Linked DNA regions of Homo sapiens. Changing the gene in region 2 together with the main gene of any one other region gives a genetic interaction. Each region holds a gene or a part of one and is shown on either strand. Other genes may lie near its edges.

Evidence for each region. Genes that interact genetically often act in the same process or in processes that back each other up.
Region 1: changes in CKM (region 2) and ACVR1 together harm fitness less than expected from each alone (positive genetic interaction), as found in Homo sapiens cells (one large-scale study listed by BioGRID).
Region 3: changes in CKM (region 2) and XIAP together harm fitness more than expected from each alone (negative genetic interaction), as found in Homo sapiens cells (one large-scale study listed by BioGRID).

The regions. Positions count from the first base shown.
Region 1 is NC_000002.12:157,869,831-157,873,330, forward strand, and holds part of ACVR1 (activin receptor type-1 precursor), read right to left. Parts: intron 1-3,500. UniProt on the Homo sapiens protein: Bone morphogenetic protein (BMP) type I receptor that is involved in a wide variety of biological processes, including bone, heart, cartilage, nervous, and reproductive system development and regulation.
Region 2 is NC_000019.10:45,311,863-45,317,486, forward strand, and holds part of CKM (creatine kinase M-type), read right to left. Parts: intron 3,736-5,624; coding exon 3,603-3,735; intron 59-3,602; coding exon 1-58. UniProt on the Homo sapiens protein: Reversibly catalyzes the transfer of phosphate between ATP and various phosphogens (e.g. creatine phosphate).
Region 3 is NC_000023.11:123,908,553-123,912,052, reverse strand, and holds part of XIAP (E3 ubiquitin-protein ligase XIAP), read right to left. Parts: 3' UTR 1-3,500.

The DNA of each region.
Region 1 (3,500 bases), on a different chromosome or scaffold from region 2:
CCTTACTCCTGAAAAGGAAGGTGTCACTCTAGATAACCACCTACACTTTCACTCCTATGCATATTTCTATCTTGTGTAAGTCCCTGACATCAAGACAAGGGATATTCATCCCTAAGCTCCTGCCTTTATGGTCATGTTTGCTTATATGCATTAACTCACTACTTACAGAGAGTAAATCAAGCACATCTTACTTTCACCCCAAGCGTAGCCAACACTCATCAATAGCTGCAATAGTGGAAGTTTCGGAACTTGGTTTAAAACATCACTCAACCCATCCCTTCTATTCCAGAATGCTTTTTCTCAAGTTCTTCTTATTGCACATTTTCCTCAGTACCCACGTTCCAAACTCTCAAGTATCGTCCCATTTCTAATATCCAACTTTGCCCAAGATCACCCCACCTTCGTTCTCCCCTCTGTACATTTCTAAAGTTCAAGGTTATATTTTGGAGGGCCTATCAATATTCTTCCAGAACTGGCTAAAACGGAATCCCCCAAATCAAAGTAATCTTGCTTTTCGATGGCATGGTGATATTAATAGCCAATCTTGGCTTTCATAGATGAGCAAAAGCACACACCCATCAAGTATTCAAGATGAAAAGTTATATGTGGTATGTCCACTGATTTCAGCCCTTAAAAATCTCTCAAAAGAGGAGTTTACTTTGGATTCCACCCATTTTCCAAAGAGGTCACCTACATTTTTCCACCTCTCACATAAGCATGGCCCACCACTACGTTTTCACTGTCAACTGTTTGGAAACATATGCAACAGGAAAAAGTCAAGAGTAAAGTAATTGATTCACTGAGTGTCTGGGTCCTAACTATAAATAATGAAGGATTCCCTGCTCTGTGGGATATAAAAAATTAGTGAGATATTCTTCTCAAAAATGGAAGCATCACTCTTAAATATAAAAAGAAAGAAAGAAACATATGCTGAAAAGAACACAATAAATGTTTGTGGAATTGACTAAGCACAGGTTACAACATTAAGCACTGAGAAGAGGTATCAAAAGCAGTTCCTTCTACATAGAATGTCTTTCGTCCCCACTTTCCAAACTCATCCTTACGGACCACAGTGACTGGTATCATCTTGTCAGCAATCTCCCTGGTTCCCTAGAAGACTAGGTCCCTTTGCTCCCTTAATATGCAATCATCCATTCATTCTCTCGGCAATTCAAAAACAATTTATTGACTGTGTGGTCTAGGCCAGGCATTGTGTTAGGTGCAAAAGTTACACAAAAGATGAATAAGACAGTCCCTTGCCTCAAGGAGCCCAGGGAGAGAATTTGAAAGGTTTTAAGTTGGTGAAGAGCAATGACTTGTGTAGAAAGAATCAATGGAGGAATGAACAACTTGAAGTCCTTGCCCTCAAAGAGATCAATCACATCCCAGAATAAGAAATGGGGATGATAAAACCTAGGAGACTGTCGAAAGGCAAAATGGCAAAATCCAGAAAGCATTCTTGCTTGCAGTAAGATTACTCTGAGCCTTGAAGAATCTGGGTCCCCCAAAAAGGAGGGGAGTGAGGGGCAATGCAGAGACCAGAACAGCCAGGGTTTGGCCTCAAGATGAATGAGAACTGACCTTGGGTGATCCCTCAGGACACTTATGCTAAAAGTGGTCTCACCCCATCCCCCTCTTCAAAACAACTTTCACCTACTGCACAAACCTCCACAAAATTTAGGAAGACTGAAATTTAAAGTTACTTTCCCAGTCACAGAAATAAAGGCCAAATACCCAGAGTCAACAATGAAGTAACTCTAATGGGCAAAGTGGAATGTTGGTCAGAGAGTGAAACCCAAAAATCAAACAACTGAATAGCCGTGGCTCTGGAAAACAAAGCTCTGATGGATCACATAAGAGCCTTTATACATATAAACAATCTCACATTTCCAGAACTGCCTAGAAGCGCACAGGAATAGTATTCGAATGTGTGGTTAGTTTGAATATTAGGGGCAGAGGGTGTATTTGTGTTAACTCAGAAAAGGAAGCTGCCGAATATCTTATTAGTTAATTTTGAGAGTGTGAGTTCAAGCAAAACTACCTCCCATCTGAACCAAAGGCTGTGATGTGCCAACCACACCAAACTGATGAGGCTCTTTCAAAAGGAGTCTTTCATTTGAATGTCCTTCCAACAGACAAACCCTAGTTTAGAACTTCTGATTCTTAAACTTAACATGGCAAGCAAGAGCATTCTATGGCCAACTGCTAAAAATGAGGAGGTAAATCTTCCATTTGGTTCTTCTGAGAGCTGGAATTGGCCACAGAAAGAAACACAAAGTTTTCACTCCAAAAGATCAAAGAAGGTATTTTGTACCAGGAAACCCAATTCCAAATCCTCATTTCCAGGAATAAAGCCACAGTGCCCGGTGCTTGCTTGGGAAAATAAAACAGGAGATTCTGCGGATTCCAATTAAAATTTCTGATGGCTTTATTTCCCAGCCTCACCAGTTTAATGTTGTTAACATTTCATCCAGGCCCTGCTTTAACTTAAATACTGCTTCCAGCTCTGAATGGTCACACCTTACTACTGGGTAAAAAGGAAGGTGTCTTAACACTTCATGACAGTATTCTTTGCCCCATCCCAAGTGCTAGATATATAAGACAAGGTGATGCTGAAAAGTGCTAGCTTCAGCCCAGCCTGTGTCTCCCATAACTACAGCCAGGTGAAACCTCACTGCAGCCCACACTATTTAGTTGCAATATTGGAAAGGAGAGTAGAAGCAGGAGAAAATAGGGGAGGAGGGGGACATACCTCAACCTTATTCAAATATAACAAACAATGAGCTTGCTTTACAATTATTTCCTGGGGTCTTATCGATCAGCCAGTAGTTACTGTGTGCCCACTGCAAACAAGGCACCAAGCTAAATCTATAGTCAGCATAGTGCAGTAAAATATTCCCTAAGTAATCATTATGTTAATGGTTATGTGTTTAATTTTCTTTATCATTTTAGAAAAAATGTATTGTGTATGTAGGTTATAAAGTCTAAAAATAAAATCAGCACCTATGAACCCATCACCCAATCCAAAAACCAGAACATCACCAACACTGTATCATCTACCTACTTCCTCCATTTTTATTCCAGGTCCCTGCAACATACACACACTCCACATAATCATTATTCTGAAGTTGGGGTTTCGGTGCAAGTACAAACGCATATTTATGACTACCTCCTATTCCTAACAAGTGAGTTGGCTTTCCAAATATGGTAGTAATACATAATTTCCTCTCAAAAAAATGATGTCTTTAGGTTCTTTTCTTTAAGTGAATCATTGCTTTAAAGAAAAATATTAATAGAGTAAGTGGGACTCAGCCATGGTAAACTCAGGAAGACAGTATGTGAGTGAATGAACTTTGACAATCACTGGCAAAAGTGGCCAAGAACATGAGTTCTGAAGTCCTGCAGACCTCTGGTTCAAATCCCCATTCTACCACTGAAATTTGCCAAGCCTCAATTTCTTATTGTAGGACGGTAAAATAATAATAAGACATATGGTGTTT
Region 2 (5,624 bases):
GTCATGCTCTTCAGAGGGTAGTACTTCCCTTTGAACTCGCCCGTCAGGCTGTTGAGAGCTATGGGGACACACGAGGGAGTGGTCAGCAGCCTGTCCCACCTCAACCAGGGTGTGGAGGCCCAGGGTTTCCCCTGCTGCTGCTCCTAACGGGCCTGGGCCTTGGCCCCCTGGATGTCCTAAAGGCACCTGAACCCTGTGTCTAAACCCACACTTGTGACGGCTCCCCAAAATCTGTTCCTGCCATCTGTCCAGGCCCCCAGGAATGGCCACCCCATGTGCTCAATCTGGAAAACAGACCCACCTCTTCCCCTGAGGGACCCTCACATCCAATCCACCTGCAGGCCACAGTGTGCTGGTGCCTGCTCCTAATGGCTGGCAACACAGATGGCTGAAGTCTCAGGACTTTGAGAGGCCATTAGTAAAAATTATTATAAAGTAGAATGGTAGCCAGGTGCACTGGCACGAGCCTGTAGTCCAGATACTGGGGAGGCTGAGGCAGGAGGATCACTTAAGCCCAGGAGTTCGAGTCCAGTCTGGGTAACATAGCAAGACCCCCATCTTTTTTTTTTTTTTTTATGAGACGGAGTTTTGCTCTTGTTGCCCAGGCTGGAGCGCAATGGCGCGATCTTGGCTCACTGCCACCTCCGTCTCCCGGGTTCAAGCGAATCTCTTGCCTCAGCCTCTCAAGTACCTGGGATTACAGGCATGCGCCACCATGCCCGGCTAATTTTGTATTTTTAGTAGAGACGGGGTTTCTCCACTTGGGCGCCTGGCCCAAGACCCCAATCTTTAAAAAAAAAAAAATTGTAGGCTGGGCGCAGTGGCTCATGCCTATAATCCCAGCACTTTGGGAGGCCAAGGCAGGCAGATCACTTGAGGTCAGGATTTTGAGACCAGCCTGGCCAACATGGTGAAACCCCGTCTCCACTAAAAATACAAAAATTAGTCGGCCATGGTGGCACACGCCTGTAATCCCAGCTACTCAAGAGGCTGAGGCACGAGAAACACTTGAACCCAAGAGGTGGAGGTTGCAGTGAGCTGAGATTTTGCCACTGCACTCCAGCCTGGGTGACAGAGTGAGATTCTGTCTAAAAAAAAAAAAAAGAAAAAAAATTGTGTGTTTATTTGTATATTCATGTATAAAATATGTGTATAATGAATTTGTGTTTGTGCATATGTACAATAAATCTATAATATTTATATATCTTATACATATTCATATAATATACAGACATACCTCGTTTTATTGCATTTTGCAGATACTGTGTTTTTTACAAATTGGAGGTTTGTGGCAACTCTTTGTCCAGCAGGTCTATTGGAGCCATTTTTCCTACAGCATGTGCCACTTCGTGTCTCTGTGTCACATGTGGGTAATTCTCACAGTACTGCAGACTTTCTCATTATTACTATATCTGTCATGGCGATCCGTGATCAGTGATCTCTGATGTTACTGTTTTAATTTTGGGGGGTGCCACCGACCTTGCCCATATAAAAGGGTGAACTTAATGGATAAATGTGTGTGCTCGGACTGCCCCACTGACCAGCCATTCCCTCATCTCTCCCCATCTCCTTGAGCCTCCGTATTCCCTGAGACACATGATTTTGAAATCAGGCCAATTCAGTTCATAACCTTACAATGGCCTCGAGGTGTTCAAGTGAAAGGAAGAGTCAACATTTTTCACTTTAAATAAAAAGCTTCATAGGCCAGGTGCGGTGGCTCACGCCTGTAATCCTAGTGGTTTGGGAGGCTGAGGCAGGCAGATCACCTGAGATCAGGAGTTTGAGACCAGCCTGGCCAAGATGGCGAAACCCCGATTCTACTAAAAATACAAAAATTAGCCAGGCGTGGTGGCGCATGCCGGTGATCTCAGCTACTTGGGTGGCTGAGACACGAGAATTGCTTGAACCACGAGGTGGAGGTAACAGTAAGCCAAGATTGCACCACTGCACTCCAGCCTGGGCGACAAGAGTGTGGCTCCATCTCAAAAAAGAGATTCTTTTCAAACTATTACTGCTGGCCAGGCACTGTGGCTCACACCTGTAATGCCAGCACTTTGGGAGACCAACATGGGAGGATCACTTAAGCCCAGGAGTTGGAGGTTATGGTAAGTCATGATTGCACCACTGCATTCCAGCTGGGCAACAGAACAAGACCCTGTCTTGAAAAGAGAGAGAGAAAGAGAAGGAAGGAAGGAAGGGAGGAAGGGAGGGAGGAAAGAAGGAAGGAAGGAAGGACGGAGAAGAAAAGGGAAGGGAAGGGAAGGAAGGGAGGGAGGGAAGGAAGGGAAGGAAGGGAGGAAGAAAAGAAAGGAAAGGAAGGAAGGAAGGAAGGAAGGAATTGCCGCAGCCATCTCAACCTTGAACGACAACCGCCCTGATCAGTCAGCAGCCCATCAACATCAAGGCAAGGCCCTACACAACAGAAAGGTTCCAACTTGCTGAGTCCTCAAATGATCACAACATTTTTAGCAGGATTTTAAAATTAAGGTATGTACTTTTTTTTTTCTAGACATAATGCTATTGTGCACTTAACAGACTACAGTATAGGATAAACATAACTTTTTTTTTTGAGATGGAGTCACACTCTGTCCCCCAGGCTGGAGTGCAGTGGCGTGATCTCAGCTCACTGCAACCTCTGCCTCCCAGGTTCAAGCGATTCTCCTGCCTCAGTCTCCCAAGTCGCTGGGATTACAGGTGTGTGCCACCAGACCCAGCTGATTTTTGTATTTTTAGTAGAGATGGGGTTTTACCATGTTGGCCAGGCTGGTCTCAAACTCCTGACCTCAAATGATCCACCTGCCTCAGCTTCCCAAAATGCTGGGATTACGGTGTGAGCCACTGTGCCTGGCCTCTTTTTATTTGTTTTTGAGGCAGGTTCTCACTCTGTCACCCTGGCTGGAGTGCAGTGGCACAATCACGATTCACTGCAGCCTCAACCTCCCGGGCTCAAGTGATCCTCCCACCTCAGTCTCCTGAGTAGCTGGGATGACAGGTGTGTGCCACCACTCCTGGCTCATTTTTGTCTTTTTTGTAGAGACAGGGTCTTGCTGTATTGCCCAGTCTGGTCTTGAACTCCTGGGCTCAAGCGACCCTCCCTCCTAGGCCTCCCGCACTGCTGTGGGAGCCACTGTGCCCGGCCTCAACTCCTCCTATCTGAGGTGGCTCCCCTCGGTCATTCTCCACCACACCCATGTCTTGGCTTCATGGCACTTTTGAATTATCTTGTTCATCTGTGGGTTTCTGTATTTCCTCTTGTCTCCCCACCAGCTGAACACTCTGTGAGAACAGTGAGGGACCCCTATCTCCCCACACAGGGCAAGAACCCCTGGAAATGTGTGCTGGATGAACGGATGGCAGGACGCTGGGGGCAGCCAGGTGTCTGCGTAGGTCTTCTCAGGGGCCGTCGGGTCTGGACAGCATCCCTGAATCTCCAACACAGCAGGTAATGCTGACAGCCCGCGCCATTCCCCAAGCCCCCACGATTTACCAAGCTCTTCCCCTACTTTGAAAAGCGGGGGCCCAAAGAGACCCGAGGACCTGCCCATGGAGGAACAGAGCCAGGGCTGGGTGACCCCAGCAGTGGACGGGGTAGGGGCGCTCACCTTCCACAGAGAGCTTCTCCACCGCCCGGCGCTCGCCACGGGAGCAGTGTGGGGGCAACGTGTAGCCCTTGATGCTGCGGCCAGTGCGGACGCGGCTGCTGAGCACGTAGTTAGGGTCCAGGTCGTCTCCACCCTGGAGAGCGGGTGGGAGATCAGGACCAGGCAGATCCTCCGCCCTCTCCAGCAAGCCCAGGTCTCCCCCAGATGCTCCCCTCAGTCTCCCTGTTGCTTCCTTTGCCTTCTGCATCCTCACTGATTGGGTGTGTGGAGCCTCTCCCCGCCACCCATACCTGGGCTCTGTCTCTCCCTTCTCTGTCTCTCTCCCCTCTCCTATCTCTGTTTTTCTTTATACCTCTCTCTCCCCATCTTCGTATATTTCTTTTCCTTTTTTTTCTTCGAGACAGGGTCTCTCTCTGTCGCCCAGGCTGGAGTGCAGTGGTGCCATCATAGCTCACTGCAACCTCAAACTCCTGGGCTCAAGCAATTCCCCTGCCTCAGCCTCCCAAGTAGCTGGGACTAACAGGTAGGTATATGCCACCATGTTCGGCTAACTTAAAATAAATTTTTTATAAATAGAGACAGGGGCTGGGCGCGGTGGCTCACACCTGTAATCCCAACACTTTGGGAAGCCGAGGTGAGCCAATCACCTGAGGTCAGGAGTTCGAAACCAGCTTGGCCAACATGGTGAAACCCCATTTCTACTAAAAATACAAAAATTAGCTGGGCGTGGTGGTGCGCGCCTGTAATCCCAGCTACTCAGGAGGCTGAGGCACGAGAATCACTTGAACCTGGGGATCAGGGGTTTCCGTGAGCTGAGATCGAGCCACTGCACTCCAACCTGGGTGACAGAGTGAGATTCTGTCTCAAAAAAAAAAAAAAAATAGAGACAGGGTGTCACTATGTTGCCCAGGCTGGTCTCAAACTCCTGGGCTCAAACAGTCCTCCTGCCTCAGCCTCCCAACGTGATGGGATTACAGGCATGAGCCACCATGCCTAGCTAAATTTTTAGGCTTTTTTTTTTCTTTTTTTTGGGCAGAGACGGGTTCTTGCTATGTTGCCCAAGCTGGTCGTGAACTCTCCTGGCTTCACGTGATCCTCACACCTCAGCCTCCATAAGTGCTGGGATTACAGGTATAGCCACTGCACCCAGCCTTTCTGCCCATTTCTGTTTCTCTTCCTGTCTCCCTTTCTCCCACTCTCCTTGTCTGTGTCTGACTGCAACTGCGTGTGTCTCTCTCTCCCTGTCTCTCCTGCCTTCTCTGATGCTCCCTTCTGTCTCCCTCTGTGTCTCTGCCTCTCCCCCCACCCTTTTTTTTTTAGGCAGAGTCTCGCTCTGTCACCCAGGCTGAATAGCTAGGATTATAGGTGAACACCAGCATGCCTAGCTAATTTTTGTATTTTTAATAGAGACTGGGTTTCACCGTGTTGGTCAGGCTGGTCTCGAACTCCTGACCTTATGATCCGCCCACCTCAGCCTCCCAAAGTGTTGGGATTACAAGCGTGAGCCACTGTGCCCGGCTATGCCTCTTCCTTTTCTACATGCTTTTGTGCCTTTCTTCTCCCTCTCCCTCTCCTTTGTCTGTCTGTCTCCTTGGTTGTCTGTGTCTCCTTGGCTGTCTCTGTGTCTCTCTGTCCCTCTCTCTTTCCTTTTTTTATTTTCTGAGATAGAATCTTGCTCTGTCACCCAGGCTGGAGTGCAGTGGCATGATCTCAGCTCACTGCAGCCTCCATCTCCTGGGTTCAAGAGATTTTCCTGCCTCCACCTCCTGAGTAGCTGGGATTACAGGCACGCGCCACCATGCCCAGCTAATTTATTTTATTTATTTATTTATTTATTTTTTGAGACGAGTTTCGCCCTTGTTGCCCAGGCTGGAGTGCAATGGCACGATCTCTGCTCACCACAACCTCTGCCTTCCAGGTTCAAGCGATTCTCCTGCCTCAGCCTCCCACGTAGCTGGGATTACAGGCATGTGCCACCACACCCAGCTAATTCTGTATTTTTAGTAGAGACGGGGTTTCACC
Region 3 (3,500 bases), on a different chromosome or scaffold from region 2:
TAAACATTTGGACCTTTCAAGAAAGGTAGCTTGGTGAAGTTTTTCACCTTCAAACTATGTCCCAGTCAGGGCTCTGCTACTAATTAGCTATAATCTTTGCACAAATTACATCACCTTTGAGTCTCAGTTGCCTCACCTGTAAAATGAAAGAACTGGATACTCTCTAAGGTCACTTCCAGCCCTGTCATTCTATAACTCTGTTATGCTGAGGAAGAAATTCACATTGTGTTAACTGTATGAGTCAAACTGAAAATGATTATTGAAGTGGGAAAAAGCCAATTGCTTCTCTTAGAAAGCTCAACTAAATTTGAGAAGAATAATCTTTTCAATTTTTTAAGAATTTAAATATTTTTAAGGGTTTGACCTATTTATTTAGAGATGGGGTCTCACTCTGTCACCCAGACTGGAGTACAGTGGCACAATCATAGCTCACTGCTGCCTCAAATTCATGGGCTCAAGTGATCCTCCTGCCTCTGCCTCCAGAGTAGCTGCGACTATGGGCATGTGCCACCACGCCTGGCTAACATTTGTATTGACCTATTTATTTATTGTGATTTATATCTTTTTTTTTTTTTGAGACAGAGTTTTGCTCTTGTTGCCCAGGCTGGAGTGCAATGGCACGATCTTCGCTCACCACAACCTCCGCCTCCTGGGTTCAAGCGATTCTCCTGCCTCAGCCTCCCAAGTAGCTGGGATTACAGGCATGAGCCACCACGCCCAGCTAATTTTGTATTTTTAGTAGAGACGGGGTTTCTCCATGTTGGTCAGGCTGGTCTCGACCTCCCGACCTCAGGTGATCTGCCCGCCTCGGCCTCCCAAAGTGCTGGGATTACAGGCATGAGCCACCGCGCCCAGCTGATTTATATCTTATCTATGAGAAACACCAAAAACTATGAGTAAGCATCACTGAGTTATCATGTAAGAATTTTTTCTAAGTTTTAGCCCAAATTTCCAGGTCAAGACAAACCCACAGAGAGGTAAAAGGGTATTAGGATGGGAGTTCATATTTACAGCAGGAACTTTACATACATGGTCTCCTTGAGCTCTTGCAACCTTGTAAGATAAGTATTATTTTCCTTTCACAGATGAATAAACTGCTACCCTTTTTTTAACAAGTAGATTTGACTAAAAAGAACTATGTCAAATATTGCTTCCCATTTTCTTATTTCTTTTTTTTTTTTTTTTGAGACAGAGTCTTGCTCTGTTGCCCAGGCTGGAGTGCAGTGGCGAGATCTCGGCTCACTGCAAGCTCTGCCTCCCGGGTTCACACCATTCTCCTGCCTCAGCCTCCCGAGTAGCTGGGACTACAGGCGCCCGCCACCACGCCCGGCTAATTTTCTGTTTTTTAGTAGAGACGGGGTTTCACCGTGTTAGCCAGGATGGTCTCGATCTCCTGACCTCGTGATCCACCTGCCTCAGCCTCCCAAAGTGCTGGGATTACAGGCGTGAGCCACTGAGCCCAGCCCCATTTTATTTCATTTCTCTAACAGCAATGATATATATACATCCCATAGTATATCCTACTGATATACTAGCCCCTTTCCCCATTCAACACCTGTGTAATCAGGAAATAAAACAATGATTCGGGTTTAAAGGGTATATCATGTGAAACTAATGCTGGGGCGGTAGTCTCCATTCATAGTTCAAAATACAAATTTTATCCACTAAAATGGAAACACAAAAAACAACTACTGAAATGTAAATAATATAACAACAAAAATAACAAAATATCATAATACACAGGGCCAAATCACATTATATACACTCACTACACCCACTCTACCCTACCTTAGCCCGTAATCAAAGGGACAGGGGAAAAAACCAAATGTAGCAGGAAAGGCAATATAAAGCTATTAATTAATTAACTGGAATTTAGTTTGTAAATGCTAAAACCAGTTCTCAAAAATTAAGACAATGCTTTTGATCAGCAGACTAAATTATTACAAATAAAGATAAGTACTTATTGCAAAACTACTTGAATCTTTGCATGACTAAAATGTAAAATAAGTGGTGACTTGAAATCCTAGAGTGAACTTTATACAGAAAAGGAATAGTCTACATGTAGACACTGAGAACTCTTGGGAGGGGGAAAAGATTTGGATATGGCTATAGTTTTGACTTTGCAAATGATCAATTTTTGCGGAATTAGATGGAAAAGATCCGGTGCTTTTTATAGTTCAAACACAGACAAATGCTGTTAAGTCTCCAAAAATTTGATTAGAAGTTGGAGTGCTGAGTGATTTTAAGAACCTGAAGCAACAGCATTTCTAAACAATTCTTAAAATAAACTTGTTAGCCACATCAGCGTTGTGCATTAAATTTCACAACTCATGGAGAGGAAGAAAAAAAGTCTTGCTTAACTCTAAACATACAAGTTTTAGAAGAATTTTAATGAAGTGCGGCTCCCAGAACAGGAAAAGCCTTATGTTAAAACAATTCAGTCCTTGAGTCCTTGGCTAACAACTAGATTGAACTACCTACCTGACTTGGAAGTGAAGTGTCCTGGAAAACATATTTTAAAAATTTTAACACTTTTCTCCCCTTGTAGAAAACTTTAAATTTAAAGTCTAGACTATACAGACCAAATTCAAGTTAATGACTATATAACCAAACTAAGTGGCAGACAGTGCAAAGGTGAAGAACTGAGGATTTACATACTAAAACAGAAACAGGGCAGTCATTATTTAATTTTTAAAACTCTCATTTAAATTTGCAATGTTTTAGCCGGGCGTGGTGGCTCAAGCCTGTAATCCCAGCACTTTGGGAGGGCAAGGCGAGTGGATCTCTTGAGGTCAGGAGTTTGATACCAGCCTGGCCAACATGGTGAAACCCCGTCTCTACTAAAAATAAAAAAAAATTAGTCGGGCATGGTGGCACCTGCCTGTAATTCCAGCTACTCAGGAAGCTGAGGCACGAGAATCGCTTGAACCCAGAAGGCGGAGGTTGCAGTGAGCAGAGATCACTCCACTGCACTCCAGCCTGGGTGACAAGCAAGACTCCATCTCAAAAAGAAAATTAAATAAATAAAATAAATTTGCAATGTTTTAAATGAATATCACTTAAAGTAGTAATCAACAGAAGTTAGGAGAACATAACAATACTCTTTCTCTTAGAAAGTACAACAAAAATATAATTTTTTACAGTTTTACTCTCAAACTTTCCTCTGTAGTAACATGCCTTACTCACCTCTACAATAGGTTTGTTGTGAGAATCTTGTAATGTAAACCCTGGACGTTCTATGAAGCATTTTTAAACTTCTAGTTTATACCCTACTGATTCTTATTCAAGTGTTTTTTAAAAAATATTTAAACAACTATTCTTCTTTTCTTGCCAATATTTTTATAATTTCCAAGAGGTTTTAAGGATCTTGAGAGAACATTTATTTCAGAAGTATCTACTACTATTACTAGCCAAGAAAACAAATGTAGGTAGAGGAAAGACTTAACATTTTGTCCTATATACATCTTAATCATCCTAACGGTAAAAACTCACATGAAACT